Linked DNA regions of Homo sapiens. The protein of the gene in region 1 interacts with the protein of each later gene in a pairwise test. Each region holds a gene or a part of one and is shown on either strand. Other genes may lie near its edges.

Region 1 (3,650 bases):
CAGCTGACCAGAAGGGGCAACATAGACAGCCAAATCCATCCTGGCTTCAGATAAGTGCTGGCTTCCTTTCTCTGCCAAGTCACATGTTGTCAATGTCGCCATGGGGTCAAAGTTTTCCCTACAGAGAGCAGTGACAGGCTAGCTTGTTCTGACGTTGAGCTACAGGAAAATGAATGGCCTCTGAGCTGGGCAAGCAGTTGAAGCAAGGGTATTCAGGAGAGCACCATCTTTTCTTGGTGGAGCCCAAGAGTTAAATTTCTAACCAGTTCCCAGGTAATGCTGATGCTGCTTGTCCCAGGACCACACTATGAGAACCACTGGCATACAGTGTTTGTGATTCAATGTGAATTTTGTGATGCTGTCCGGATGCTGAGGGGCCCCCAGGGTGTCCACCCAACTCACTGCAGTGGAAACACGTCTTGTGGAAACTCCTTCCATTGCACTGGATTTCTTCTGCATGGTAGACGGTCTTTTCACAGGCTCCACATTTTGCGCCTCCGCCCCAGTTTGGCATCTTGAAGACTATCTGGTCAAGGTCAAGTCTAAGGGGACATAAAGCAAATACCCTACATTGAAGTGGCCCCAGGAGTGAACCAATCTCTAAGAGTGCAGTGGTCTGAAGACCAGGATCCAGCCCAATTTTTTTTTAGTGTTTCATTTATTCATTCATTTAGCAAACAGCTACTGTGTGCTAGTCATTAAATAAGCTCAGACACTTAGATGGCTTTGGGTAATCACTTTACCACTTGGGAACTCAGTTTCTTCTCCTGTTAAATTTCAGTAACATCTATTCCTATGTATCTCACAGGGCTCCCGGAAGGAATGAATAGGCTAATTTCATGTACATAAAAGTATATACAAAGATCGTTTTTTTTTTCATCTCAAGTTTAAAAAATTATCCCATCAGAACTGGGAATCATCTGTGAAGATGGTATTTTCTTCTTGTCTAGCTAAGAGCTTCTCAAATCACCTTAGACCTTGCTAAATGCAGATTCTGGTTTGGTAGATCTGGGGAGAGGCAGGAAATTCTGCATTTCTAACAGACTCCAGGCAATATTGATGCTGCTGGCAGTGGACTACATTTTGGGTAGCAAAATCTTAGCTTATCTTGCTGATAGAAAAGCATATTAATAATATATAAAATCTCCTATTCCAAGTTATTCCTCATATCCATACATTCCTTTTTAAGAATATAATCACCTAGGCTATAAGATATATTGGCACTACACTAGGTCAGTAGTTGGAAACTTGCTTTCTGCTTTCAGGGCTACCCTCTACCTGCTGTTCATATCAGGATGAACTACATAGCTTAACTTTATACCTGTTTTCCCACCTATACAGTTATTCTTTTCCCTGCTGCTTTAGTGTCCTTTAGAAAATCAAACGACATGATGTGCAGGAAGGTCCCACAGAGTTCACAGTGCTCAACAGGAGCCAGACCATGGTGCTGACATGTCCTCCTGCACCATTGGAGACATTCAGCTACAAGGAGCTGCTAATAGCCACAGCCCCAGGACTGTCATTGTCTCCTCACCACAGGATTACATTTAAGAGATATTAACCAAAGAAAATTATTTAAAAAAATAATTGTCCTCTGTATTTTTAGTAGAGACGGGGTTTCACCATGTTGGCCAGGCTGGTCTCAAACTCCTGACCTCAAGTGATCTGCCCGCCTTGGCCTTCCAAAGTGCTGGAATTACAGGCTTGAGCCACCGTGCCCGGCCTAAACAAAAATTAGCCAGGTGTGGTGGTGGGCACCTGTAATCCCAGCTGCTTGAGAGGCTGAGGAAAGAGAATCACTTGAACCCAGGAGGCGGAGGTTGCAGGGAACCAAGATTGTACCACTGCACTCCAGCCTGGGCAACAGAGCGAGACTCCGTCTCAAAAAATAAATAAATAAATAAAATAGTAATAATAATTGTCCTCATCTGCATATGTTTTTAGTATGAATCCAAGTTTTCAGTTTCCTCAAAGCAGAACTAAAATAAGCCATTGATGTTAAATGAAACTTCTGAAATTCAGCTGCCCAGGGGAGCTGCATTTTCACTGGGATCCTCTGGTTTCTAAGAAGCCTAGTGTGTCATGACATGGAGCACTATCCAGCCATTCTGAGTGGCTGCTTGTGACCTTCACTTTCCCTTCTGGGAAGCCAGTCACCTTCTTATAATAGTTGGCGATTAACACTAAGCCCTCCTGGGTCAACTGGTCCGGATTGTATCTCACAGTCTCATAACAAAGGCAGTTTTTTGCTAAGAAACAGAAAGTAAATAGCAAACAGACCACTGAACCTGATACTAGGTCTAGAAGGAATGTTTCTATCTAAATATTCCCCCAAAGAGCTTTTCCTGCTTAGAAAAACTGTGAGGTTAGCCAGGAACATCCTATCCTTCCTCTCACAGAAGTAGGATCTTCTGCTAATTCAGTAAAATTTTAGAAAAGAACTTTAAAAAAGGAAACATTGGGCTGGGCATGGTGGCTCACACTTACAATCCCAGGACTTTGGGAGGCCAAGGCAGGAGGATCACTAGCCCAGGAGTTTGAGACCAGCCTGGGCAACATAGTGAGGCCCCTGTCTCTACCCCACCCCCCAAAAAATTACCCTGGTGTGGTGGCATGCTCCTGTAGTCAGTCCTAGCTACTCAGCAGGTTGAGGCAGGAGAATCACTTGAACTCAGGAGTTCTAGGCTTCAATGAGCTATGATCACACCACTCTACTTCAGCCTAAGTGACAGAGTGAGGCCCTGCCTCTAAAATAAATAAATAAGAATTTCTTAAAAAATGGAAGCATGTGGTTTTTCTATTTCTGTAGTTCGGGTTGTTTAGGAAACTAGAAAGAGTAATGGATTTTGAGTTGAAAGACTTAGAATTAAAACTCACATTCATTCGTTCATTCATTCATTCACCCTGCATTTACTACCTGCCTATCATGTGTCAAGTACTGCACTAAGTACTCAGTGACAAAAGGGGGAAAACTTATAAAAATGAGTAGTTTGTGACCCCTGGCATTGAGAAGCCCATGTTGTAGTGAGAAAAATAGACAAGATTCAGAATGCTCTGTACCAGAGAAGAGTCTTGTGAGACATGCTACAGAAACTCAAATGACGGACTGGCTCCCCACATTTAGTCTGGGGATAAAGGCAGTGAACTGTTGGAGGGTCACAGAAGAGATCACATTCAAATGGGGGTTTGAAGGGTGAATAGGAGTTCACCAGATACAGAAAAGTGGGAAGGAATAATGCTAATGAAGTCATGCAGAGAAAAGAGCAAGCAGAAAGGCGTAGAGGCCTAAATAGCCTCTAAAATAGCCCAAATTTGTTTATTTTGGACTCCATTTAAACTACAGACTTTCAGGGCTGGAATAGATTTTTAAGATTGCTGGACCCTCTCATTTATAACCAAGGTGTATTTAAAAGTAAGCATTTAGGGATATTTTTCTTAGCCAACTTCTTTTTATACAATCCATTCTTCTCTCATTAAAGATGTTACATTTTCTAGAAAAGAATAGACTCACATAATTTTGCTCATGTTCATTTTGATCCTGAGTTTCAGCATGATACAAAATAGAGGAGAAATATAATAAATTTCCTCCAGGAACATGGCAGCGACACTTGTAAAATTAATGATATAGAAATTTTCAATGAAAACAACCT
Region 2 (3,650 bases), on another chromosome or scaffold:
TGATTGCCCACAGATTGCTTCTTTCTTACAGAGGAGGGAAGGAAATTGTAATTCACAGTGATGTTATCAGCCAGCACCATGCCTGGGAGATCACCAGGGCAGGAGAGGTATAAAATGCTCCAGGGGCAAGGTTCTGAGAAGATGCCCTGCCACTGTATGAGGCCACAACCTGCTGTGTATAACCTCATCTAAGCACAGAGAAGCACCAGGTGAACCCAAGTGGAAAGTAGTCTATTAAAAAGGGGTTAGGGGCCCTCTGCATCCCTCCAAAATGTCAATGTCATCAAAAATTTTAAAAGACTCTGGAAACGTTCCAGATTTAAGAAGGCTAAAGAAACATCACAGCCAGAGGCTGGGTCCAGTCTGGGAGTGGAAAAAATGCTGTGAGGATATTGACTCAAGTGACAAAACTGGAATAAATGGTTAGAGTACGGTATCAATATTGATAACTACAATTATGTTAGAGAGTCCCATATTCTTGGGAAATATACACTGAAGTATTTAGGGATAAAGGAGTATGATGAACTTATTGGCAAAACAGCCATCGTACTTGTATATAATATTTACGTAACTATGTGTTTTACACAGGAAGACTGAGCTTGGGAAATGATAAAGCAAACTGTGGACTTGAATGAAAGACATACAGGTATTCTTTGTATATTTTATAGTTAGCTTCTGAGTCTGAAATTATTTCCCAAATAAAAAGTTAAAAACAAATCTCTACTGAACAATGTACATCTTCCAAGAGATTTCCTTGTAGCTAAACTACTGATAAGCTTAGGTTCATAAAAGTCTATCTAGCATCCAGTGACTAAGGTCAATACCTGGTTATAGTGAGTTTCACAATATGCCAGGCCTTTCCTCTCATAATGGCGATGTCCAAGAAAGGGTTTCTCACACTTGGCACAAACAAAATGCTGAAAAAAAATTGCTATAGGTCATTTTTGAATTGCCATATTTTATATCTAATAAAGTAAATACCAGAGTTAACCTATTTTCAGAGAAGATGAAGGAAAGTTTGAGACAGTCATTTCATTTGGCCATAGGTGGCCCCATAATATAATACTTCTGCAGTTGTAATTCAGGTGTCTGTCTTTGAAGGTTACTTTAAGACATAGCCTATTATAATAGCCCAAAAAGAGAATAGAGGTGAGCATCTCAGTAGCACCTATAAAGGAGGAGCTGCTGCTGGATACAGACCATGGCACTTCCTGCTTCAAGAAGGCTTTAGGAGCAAAAGTACACATCCTGTATCATTACTGAGACATTCACAAAAGCAGTGTACATTATATATTCTTAGCTGTCAGCAAAGTCAATTGTCTTTAAAATGTCCACGTTTAATCTTTAGAGTCTCCTAATCTTGCCAGGACACCTGAATCATGAAGATTTGAAAGTACTGGTTACCCCTGAATCATGGGAGATCTGAAAGTATTGGTTACCCCTTAATCATGGAGATTTGAAAGGATTGGTTACCCTTTGCCATTTAGAACTCACCTCCACATGCCACTGCTTGCCCATAGCGTTCACCACGCGCCCTTCGATGGGCCGTCGGCAAGCACCACAGATGGGGACCCCCATTTTATCATGGCATGGGAGGCAGTATAGCTCCCCTTTCAGCTCCCGTGCATCGGCAGTCAGCTCCTTCCTGTCCGTGAGAAAGACACACAGCTTAATACTAAGAGAGAAAAGTGGCCAACCAATGGGGCTAGCACACTTTTTAGAAGGTTTTTAAAGACATTACTATGACAATCCCTGCAAATTTCTTTTTTCCCCTTTAGAGGTGATCAGAATAACCTGAATTAATAGGCCTGAACAGGTTTCAGACTCCTACCAAAACATCTGTATCTTAAAAGGATAAGATGCAAGACTAGGTCAGATACATACCACCACACCAGTCATATTCATAATTTCCTTCTTATATTATCACATTACATTTTAGTCCATTTGTCTTCCTCTAAAAGCTACAGGGAATAATCACAGTGCTGAGGGTAGACTCAGTAATACTATCTGCTATGGTGTGACTGTGTCCCCAAAGTTCATGATCCCCAATTCTGAGGTGTTGAGAGGTAGGACCTCTAAGGGGTGATTACATCATGAAGGCTCTGCCCTCACAGATGGATTAACGCTGTTACTGAGGGGGTGGGTTCCTTATAAAAGGACGAGTTCAGCCTCCTTCCTTCTCTTCCTTCCCCCCTCCTCTTCCCCCACCATGTGATGCCCTCTGCTATGTAATGATGCAGAAGAAGGTCCTCACCAGATGCCAGCCCCTTGATCTTGGACTTCCCAGCCTCCAGAACCATGAGCCAAATAAACTTCTGTTGGTTACAAATTACCCAGTTTGTGGTATTCTGTTACAGGCGCATAAAATAGACTAACACACGACCTTTCCAAGCAAACTGAGAAGTTGGGAGACTAGTTCCATTTACTAACAATTATTTAAATTGTCACAAGCTGTTGAAAATAGTTATAGGTTAATAGGTTTATTTTCATAAACAACAAAATGCCCAGAATTTTCCTTCTCCAAATACTCAAATTAAATATTATTTTCAGTCTCCTGCATCAATAAACATTTGGTCAGAGATGGTCCCAATTAGTCAAACGGACTTGTTTGAATTTCATCCCTTTTATGTAATTCTCTAGGAGAGATGCTAATGAAAAGTGGACAGAGGTGAATCCCCAAGAGGAAGGACAGGCAAGAAAACGAGATAAGGCACAAACTGATAATTCAATCACAAAAGATGAGATGGCTGAACTTATACAACCAAACTGTTTTCTTTCTTTCTCTTTTTTTTTTTTTTTTTTTGAGACGAGTCTTGCTTTGCTGCCCAGGCTGGAGTGCAGTGGCGCGATCCACACTCACTGCAAGCTCCACCTCCCAGGTTCATGCCATTCTCCTGCCTCAGCCTCCCGAGTAGCTGGGACTACAGGCACCCACCACCACGCCTGGCTAATTTTTTTATTCTTAGTAGAGATGGGGTTTCACCATGTTAGCCAGGATGGTCTCGATCTCCTGACCTCGTGATCCACCCGCCTCGGCCTCCCAAAGTGCTGGGATTACAGGCGTGTGCCACTGCACCTGGCCCAAACTGTTTTCTTAGTATTTGGCTTACTGTTTCTTCTCCATCCCTACTATAATTTAGCAAGTAAGTTCACATTAACTACAGTAAAGAATATTTTTTTATTTTTATTTTTTGAGATGGAGTCACGCTCTGTCTCCCAGGTTCGAGTGCAGTGGTGCGATCTCAGCTCACTGCAACCTCCGCCTTCCGGGTTCCTGCCATTCTCCTGCCTCAGCCTTCCAAGTAGCTGGGACTATAGGCACCCGCCACCGTGCCCGGCTAATTTTTTTTGTATTTTTTAGTAGAGACGGGGTTTCACCGTGTTAGCCAGGATGGTCTTGATCTCCTGACCTCGTGATCTGCCCGCCTCGGCCTCCCAAAGTGCTGGGATTACAGGTGTGAGCCACCACGCCCGGCCAAGAATCTTTATCCACTAAATTTTTATACTAGGCAGCAAACTGAGAAAAATTCATAGCCCAACAATTTATCATAACTTATTGAAGACAAAAAATTAAATATATTTCTTTTAGATATAAACCAAGCCAAATTAAATAAATGTAACAACATCTTTTAAGATAATACCTAATTATT

The links. Proteins that work in one complex are often made in the same cells at the same time.
Region 2: the proteins of CSRP3 (region 1) and LIMS1 interact in a two-hybrid assay, tested with the Homo sapiens proteins (one large-scale study listed by BioGRID and IntAct).

The regions. Positions count from the first base shown.
Region 1 is NC_000011.10:19,191,935-19,195,584, forward strand, and holds part of CSRP3 (cysteine and glycine-rich protein 3), read right to left. Parts: intron 543-3,650; 5' UTR 515-542; coding exon 403-514; intron 1-402. UniProt on the Homo sapiens protein: Positive regulator of myogenesis. Acts as a cofactor for myogenic bHLH transcription factors such as MYOD1, and probably MYOG and MYF6.
Region 2 is NC_000002.12:108,673,873-108,677,522, reverse strand, and holds part of LIMS1 (LIM and senescent cell antigen-like-containing domain protein 1), read right to left. Parts: intron 1,646-3,650; coding exon 1,495-1,645; intron 918-1,494; coding exon 825-917; intron 729-824; exon of another isoform or gene 593-728; intron 210-592; exon of another isoform or gene 32-209; intron 1-31. UniProt on the Homo sapiens protein: Within the IPP (ILK-PINCH-PARVIN) complex, binds to F-actin, promoting F-actin bundling, a process required to generate force for actin cytoskeleton reorganization and subsequent dynamic cell adhesion events such as cell spreading and migration.